Linked DNA regions of Homo sapiens. Each later gene encodes a partner of the first gene's protein in a complex. Each region holds a gene or a part of one and is shown in the gene's direction. Other genes may lie near its edges. The genes, in order: NPFFR1 and GNAI1.

The links.
Region 2: the proteins of NPFFR1 (region 1) and GNAI1 are in contact, whole or in part, in a cryo-EM structure (PDB 9M0R), measured with the Homo sapiens proteins. Residues at the interface, in NP_071429.1 of Homo sapiens: Thr78 (codon at 1,134), Arg141, Cys144, Ile145, Pro148, Phe149, Leu243, Arg264, Arg265, Val268, Met271, Leu272, Phe332, Asn333, Glu334, Asn335; in NP_002060.4 of Homo sapiens: Ala31, Arg32, Asp341, Ile344, Asn347, Leu348, Lys349, Asp350, Cys351, Gly352, Leu353, Phe354.

What each region holds. Positions count from the first base shown.
Region 1 is NC_000010.11:70,263,287-70,267,300, reverse strand, and holds part of NPFFR1 (neuropeptide FF receptor 1), read left to right. Parts: intron 1-909; coding exon 910-1,224; intron 1,225-4,014. UniProt on the Homo sapiens protein: Receptor for NPAF (A-18-F-amide) and NPFF (F-8-F-amide) neuropeptides, also known as morphine-modulating peptides. Can also be activated by a variety of naturally occurring or synthetic FMRF-amide like ligands.
Region 2 is NC_000007.14:80,211,202-80,214,830, forward strand, and holds part of GNAI1 (guanine nucleotide-binding protein G(i) subunit alpha-1), read left to right. Parts: intron 1-1,514; coding exon 1,515-1,668; intron 1,669-3,629. UniProt on the Homo sapiens protein: Guanine nucleotide-binding proteins (G proteins) function as transducers downstream of G protein-coupled receptors (GPCRs) in numerous signaling cascades.

The sequences.
Region 1 (4,014 bases):
GGGATGGGAGGAGGCAAAGGTTGAGCAGGAGCCCCTGCTTTGGATGTTCTGCTGAATGTGATGTGCCTCTTCTCCTTAGCCCTGGTTCACAGTTCCCCTTCATTCTCCCTTTCTCTACTGCCTTCTTGCCTTTCTCAACTAAAGTTCCATGGAGGAGATGAAGGGGAACGACATCAAAGAGTTTGAGGGTATAATAATTGGGTCCCAGCAGAAAACAAATGGTGCACTCAGAAAGGGTTTAACTGAACAGAGTTTAATGGAAGAAGAGAGGGTTAAGAGAACCAGCCAGAAACGGTGAAGCACCCAGGGACTCACAACCACAGGAAGCTGTTACCATTGAGTGCAAGGAGAGGGAAGAGTGTTACTGTAGTCAGGTGAGGGCTAGAGCCATGAAAGGGGACTCACCCAATAGGAGCAGGCTGTGGCTATAGGGAAAAACAGCTGCTGAAAGAATTGGGCCAGGCAGGAAGGGAATCAGAAGACAAACACCCTGACCTCTCTCTCTGCTCCTGCCCTCCCATCTCCTTCAGGGCCTGGCATTGGCTGAACCCAGCTAGAAGCCAGAAGACAAGGGAACCAGGGCAATGCAGAACTTAGAGGTTAGCCTCTGGGGCACACAGGAGGGCCAAGAAAGTTGGAACCTAAATGGGATGGGGGAGTTAATAAAGAAAAACCAACATTGGAGAATGAGTTATGGGCAAGACAGGGCATGAAGTACAAGACCAGGGTTTGAGTGGTTGTAGGCTGAAAGTCTTGGATCAGTGCATCAAGTTGCAACTGGAGCTGGGGACATGCTTGGGGGACCAGGGCATGGTTAAGGTTTGGCACACAGAGGGTCTCATTAGTGGTGAGAAATCGGTAATCTCTTCTTTGCCTAAGGTCCTGACCAATATATTCCTTTGGTCCTAGGGGAGCCCTCCCAGCCTCCCAACAGCAGTTGGCCCCTAAGTCAGAATGGGACTAACACTGAGGCCACCCCGGCTACAAACCTCACCTTCTCCTCCTACTATCAGCACACCTCCCCTGTGGCGGCCATGTTCATTGTGGCCTATGCGCTCATCTTCCTGCTCTGCATGGTGGGCAACACCCTGGTCTGTTTCATCGTGCTCAAGAACCGGCACATGCATACTGTCACCAACATGTTCATCCTCAACCTGGCTGTCAGTGACCTGCTGGTGGGCATCTTCTGCATGCCCACCACCCTTGTGGACAACCTCATCACTGGTGAGTGCGGGCAGTTGGCAGCAGGAGTGTCCCCTACCCCCCACTTCAACTTCTCAGATAAGGCTGGAAATCAAAGCTTAGAAGACAGATATCATTGCTGGGCTGGCCTCTTGGCCATGCCGTGGTCTCGAACTCTCAAGACAGTCTTGGGGCTGAAGAGTTAGACTAGAAATAAGAGATTTAATGAATTTCCTGTTTTCTTTGTGCCTGGCATGATGTTACTTCTCATGCATTATCTTAATTCATCCTCACAACAATCCAGTGAAGTAGAGTTTATGGTCCTCCCCATTTTATGGAAGAGGAAACATGCTCGGAGTGGTTAAGAAACTGGTCTGTAGTTACACAGCTAATAGGTGTCAAGGTCAACATTCTCACACCCATACTTCTAATTATTGTATTATACCATTCAGTCCCACTCTCTCACGGAGCTCGCATGGGCAGAATTAGAGCCAGTGGGGAGAAGTGGAAGGGAGGCAGGTTTCCTCTGAATCGGGAACGAAAACTCCACTCATTTGAGCTGGAAATTGAGCAGGGCACAGAAGAGAGTCCTGCCTGTAAGTAATGAGCTCTCTGTCCCTTGGAGTGTCTAAGCAGGGACTGGCCGGCCACTCAGTGGACCACTTGACCTCTAAATTCCTGCCGGTGCATCCTGCAGATGTCAGAACAGTGCCATCTACTCTCTACTCTCTCATGCGACTGGCCTTTCTTGTTTTAGAATCAAGTTTCCACCAACCTGAGACTCCAGGTGAGGGACTGGTTTTCAGAGATATGGAGACCCCTAGAGGTCTGAGCCTGCAGATTCTGAGCTCAGAGCTCCCAGCAGCTCACTGGTCCTCAGGATCCAGAGCCTGGACAGCCCTATTCAGAGTGACTTCACTGACTCGGGGCAGAGGGAGCCACAGCCCACGTTTCTGTAGGTTCTAGGACCCAGGATGTGGAGCCAGTGCAGAGTCAGCTCCCCTCCACAGTACCAGCTCTGTCTGGTGGAACCGTTACCCACTGCTGAGTCCCAGCTTCCTTTGCCAATGCTGAACATAAACTGCATTCCTCTCCTTTCCAACACATAGACACACACACGTGTACTCAGGCACACATGTGCAGAGATGCACACATGCATACACATAAATACATGCATACCAGTCAACAGTGATATAATGAGGTCACTAGCTGGTTAAGGTGGCGTCTCCCCATCTTTTTCATACACTCATATTTAAAATATTGTTTGAATACATAAAACATTCAGATGATTCAATAGTCAAAAACTACCAAAATTCTCCAGTGAAAAATCTCCCTTCCGCCCCTGTCCTCTGGCCTCCCAGCTCTTCTCCCTCCTGGGAGGCAACCAGTGTTGCCAGTTTCTTGTGTCTCTTTCAAACACTATTTTATGCGAGTGCAAGCAAATTGAGGACATGCTAAGGTTCCAAACAGCCAGTCCCGTACTTTTACTTCCCACCACACCCCACTTAAAAATATACCATGTATGCTGTAAAAAAGATTCATTAAAATAAACTTACATGTTGTTATCCCATATTAATAAATAAAAGAGTTTCTCACTATTTTCACCAACTGCTTAGAATTCCATTGTATGGATGTACTACAATTTATTTTGATTTGTATTTATGTTGTTTCTAATAGAATCTTCTGCAATTAAATAAAACTTCACACAGCTTCACTATTTTTTCTTTCTTTTTTTTTTTTTTTTTTTTTTTTGGAGTCTCACTGTCACCCGGGCTGGAATGCAGTGCTGGGATCTCGGCTCACTGCAACCTCCGCCTCCCAGGTTGAAGTGATTCTCCTGCCTCAGCCTCCCGAGTGGCTAGGATTACAGGCTTCTGCCACCACACCCAGCTAATTTTTGTATTTTTAGTAGAGATGGGGTTTCACCATGTTAGCCAGTCTGGTTTTGAACTCTTGATCTCAAGTGACCTGCCTGCCTCGGCCTCCCAAAGTGCTGGGATTACAGGCATGAACCACCACACCGGCCTCTTTTTTTTGAGACAGTCTCACTCTGTCATCCAGGCTGGAGCGCAGTGCACGATCATGGCTTACTGCAGTCTCAACCTGCCTGGGCCCAGGTCCTGGGACTACAGGCATGTGCCACCACCAATGGCTAATTTTTCTATTTTTTGTAGAGATGGAGTTTTGTCATGTTACCCAGGCTTGTCTCAAACTCCTGGGTTCAAGCCATCTGCCCGCCTCAGCCTCCCAAAGTGCTGGGATTACAGGAGTGAGGCACCATGCCCAGCTTTTTCTTCCTTTCTTTCTTTTTGTTTTGTTTTGTGTTGGTTTTGTTTTTTTTTTAACTCACATACAGAAGGTTGAATCATTCATTCAGTTTACAGTTCATGGCACTATGTGATTTCACTCTGTTGCAAAGCTCTTCTTTTGTTTATTTGTTTCCTTCTATATACCTATTCCACTCTACATCTCTTCTCTGACCCATAGGCAGCCATTCTGTTATATTTCTGTCTTTTGTATGCATTCTCAGAAAATGTGCTGTGAATGGCCGGGCGCGGTGGCTCATGCCTGTAATCCCAGCACTTTGGGAGGCCAAGGCGGGTGGATGACAAGGTCAGGAGATCGAGACCATCCTGGCTAAAATGGTGAAACCCCATCTCTACTAAAAAATACAAAAAATTAGCCGGGCGTGGTCGTGGGTGCCTGTAGTCCCAGCTACTCGGGAGGGTGAGGCAGGAGAATGGCGTGAACCCAGGAGGCAGAGCTTGCAATGAGCGAGATCACGCCACTGCACTCCAGCCTGGGTGAAAAAAGAAAATATGCTGTGAATGT
Region 2 (3,629 bases), on another chromosome or scaffold:
TTCCTCTAACTTTTCTATTTGATAAAAGAGAGATATACTAGAGAAGCACAGGTGGATCTTGAGGAAAAGGAAAACATGGAGAGTCAATCTCACCTCAAGCCTGTAAGCTTAACTATGCATTTCTGTATCTAATATCAACATAGCACATGGAAATATAGTTACATAGTAGTCCAAGATTCCCTTTTCTTAATTTGTTACTTCTGTTAGTTTAGTAAATCTTTTTTTTTTTTTTTTTGAGACGGAGTCTCGCCCTGTTGCCAGACTGGAGTGCAGTGGCACCATCTCTGCTCACTGCAACCTCCACCTCCCAGGTTCAAGCCAGTTCTCCTGCCTCAGCCTCCCAAGTAGCTGGGATTACAGGCACGTGCCACCACACCCAGCTGATTTTTGTATTTTTAGTAGAAATGGGGTTTCACCATGTTGGCCAGGTTGGTCAGAAACTCCTGACCTCAGATGAGCCACCCATCTCGGCCTCCCAAAGTGCTGGGATTACAGGCCTGAGCCACCGCACCCAGCCGGTAAATCTTTAATATATGTTATGCTTTGTTGCTGCCCTGTAATTTTCAGATAGGTTTCAGTGTACCATTAATATGGGGGAAATGTTTTTAAATAGAAATGTAAAACTTTGTCATTTTAAGTTAACTTTATTACAAAGTGGGGGAAAAAGTAGAAATGTCGGTTTTGTTCAGTTGACCCTTGAACAACGGGTTTAAGCTGCATGGGTCCACATATATGAAAATTTTTTTCAACCAAGCACATTCATGGGATGCAAAACCTGAGTATACAGAAAGCCACTTTTTCCTATGTGTGGGTTCCACAGAACTGCCTGCTGGACTTGAGTGTATGCACATTTTGGTACCCTTGGAGGTCTTTGTACTAATCCCCCTGAGTATACCGAGAGACGATTGTATTTTTAAAATCAAGTATATGAAATTATAGTGTAGTAGGTGCAGTGCAACACCACATGTTCATTTCTTTCATTTCAGCACTATAAAATGTATCAGTGCCCTCTTTGATGAGCACAGATCCTGGAAGGTCAAGAAACAGGAATTGGAAGTGTCCTTCCAGTATTTATATTTATTATAATATTTAGAGTATTGGGCTAATTGGGTCTTAGCTTGTTCAATTTAAGTTATTAATCTTTAAAAACCTCTATTTATCTTCTAATGGAAATTTAGATGAAATGAACTCTATGACAATGTCATTTCTTTTCACATGTTCACACTTCACATCCCTAGATTATAATGTCCTGTAGCAGGATATTCCCTGGCACAGAGCATGACATATAGTGGGCACTTGGCAAGTAAAAGTTGAATGCAAAAAGTGGTGAAAGATGATTAGACACTTCTCTTACCTAAAGTGAAAGTGTGTTCTGAAATGGCAGAAATGTATTTTTGTGATACGTATTTTTCAATCACTAAACTCTGTTTTATTACAACACCTTTTATTTTTTAAAATAGTCCTCAAAAATCCTTGCTGTTAGTGACGATTGGTTTTATTTTTTTCTATTACAGAACCGAATGCATGAAAGCATGAAATTGTTTGACAGCATATGTAACAACAAGTGGTTTACAGATACATCCATTATACTTTTTCTAAACAAGAAGGATCTCTTTGAAGAAAAAATCAAAAAGAGCCCTCTCACTATATGCTATCCAGAATATGCAGGTATTTTCCTTTTCTGGGAATAACTTGTCAAGTTACATATTTCTAAGTGAAACTTCCCCTAAGGCAAGAATTCAGTTGTTAATTTAAATCTCTTGGCTTAGTGATTCTTAGACCTTTAAGGGGTATTATTTATCAAACTGCAGTTGAGCATAAAAATTTCCTTAAGATGTAGATGAAATTACTGAAAATAATGTATTCATTTTATGGAAAAGCAGTTAGATAATTTTTAGTGATGACTCCAAGTTAAAATACTATTTTTTAAATCCAGTTAACAGATTTCATATCAGGTACTGTGTGATGTACAATAAATAAGACATGTCTCTGCCCACCATCTAATCTGAAAGACAGACATACTTAAACAACAGGCAATAGCAGTGCAACCTACTGCTAAAATAAGGAACATGAACATTATAGTAAGGGGAAATGAAGACAGGATCATTGAGGCAGCTAACTCTTCCAGAAGGGCAGGGAAGGTTTCACAAGAAGCCAAAACTTTGGTAATGAGACTGTTAATAGTGCTTTAATTTTACTATGATGGAAAATTCCCTGGAGTGAGGAAAGTAGACCTGAAGTACAGTCCTGACTTTTCCATAATTAGCTCTTTGATCTTGAACAAGGCAGTTAGTTCACCTAGGTCTCAGTATTCCATCTGTGAAGTCAGGAGTTGGGCTAAAACATTAGTTTTAGTTTAATTTAGTTCCTTGGAGCACCTCCTGGGTTGCTGTTGAAGGCGGAAATGGGAGAGGGAACAGAGCTAATTACTGCCCCCTGCACCCACCACCTTATAACTTTTTCATTAAAGCAGAGTAACTCAGCTTTCATCTGGTTTATGTATTGAGTAAAGTTTTACTTTAGTGAAGAGCATTCAGTATGCCTTAAAAAAACAGGGAGTTTGATTACCACTGGTTTATGTAATCTCCAAATCTAGATAGTTTGAAGAGTTTAGTTATTTACCCTCACCCCACTCTTCCTGTTTTTTTTTTTAAAAGTCTCAAGAATTTGTTTTTTTATAAACAGAATTTTCCTCAGTCTTGTGTTGAGTAAATTGTACGATGAGTATTCACTGCCATTTTACAGGAAATGTTAAGACAACCCTGTGATGTCAGTGCTCAGGTATCCCTACCCATACAAATGAGAATACCGGGGCTTCCTGAAGCCAGAGTCCAGTTCCAGACCCAAGTCCATTGTCCTCCTGCTCCTAGACCATGAACGACTAGGCTACATTTAATTAAACATTCAGTGGAACCAAAAGGGGAGGGTTCTTTGGTAAATATAATCATGTTACTTATAGCTCTTTTTGTGTACGGTGAAATTACACTTCAGTTCAAACTAATTTCACACATTTACTTACTTTAAAACTTTGCTTTCTTTTTGAAAGTCAAAGTCCTAAATCACTGTATTCAGCAACATTTTTTTGTGCTTATTAGAAATAAGCTACCCAGAGTCAAGATGGCTTAATTTTTCCCTTATTTGAATATATTTTTCAGTTTATTTTTATCATATTCTATGATGTAGCCATTTTGTACTAATTCATAGTACCAGATTCCCCAAGTGAATCCATAAATATTGTATACCTACGGGGATTTTAGAGCAACTAAGAATATACTTGTTAGCTCTTTCCTTGCCAAGTAGACAGTGTGTTTAGGAATTTTTGCTTGTGTTTTGCTTAAGTTAATAAGAATACCTGACTTCAGAATCTTTGCACAAAAAGAATATTACATAATTCTTTCACATCCCCAGAGTTAAGATTATTGTTTAAGATCTCCATGGCATGCCCAAAGTATTGATTCAGTTGCTTCTTGCTTCAGCCGCAACTCTCAATTTCCTGTGGCTGTGGAAGAACCCTGTGTAGCCCCTAAACAACTCACTTGATTTATCTCCTGTCTGTCTGCTCCTGTGTTACCCTTCTCCTCCTCTTCTTTTTCCTGTATGTTGCCACTTCACCAGTTTCATCTGCAGTC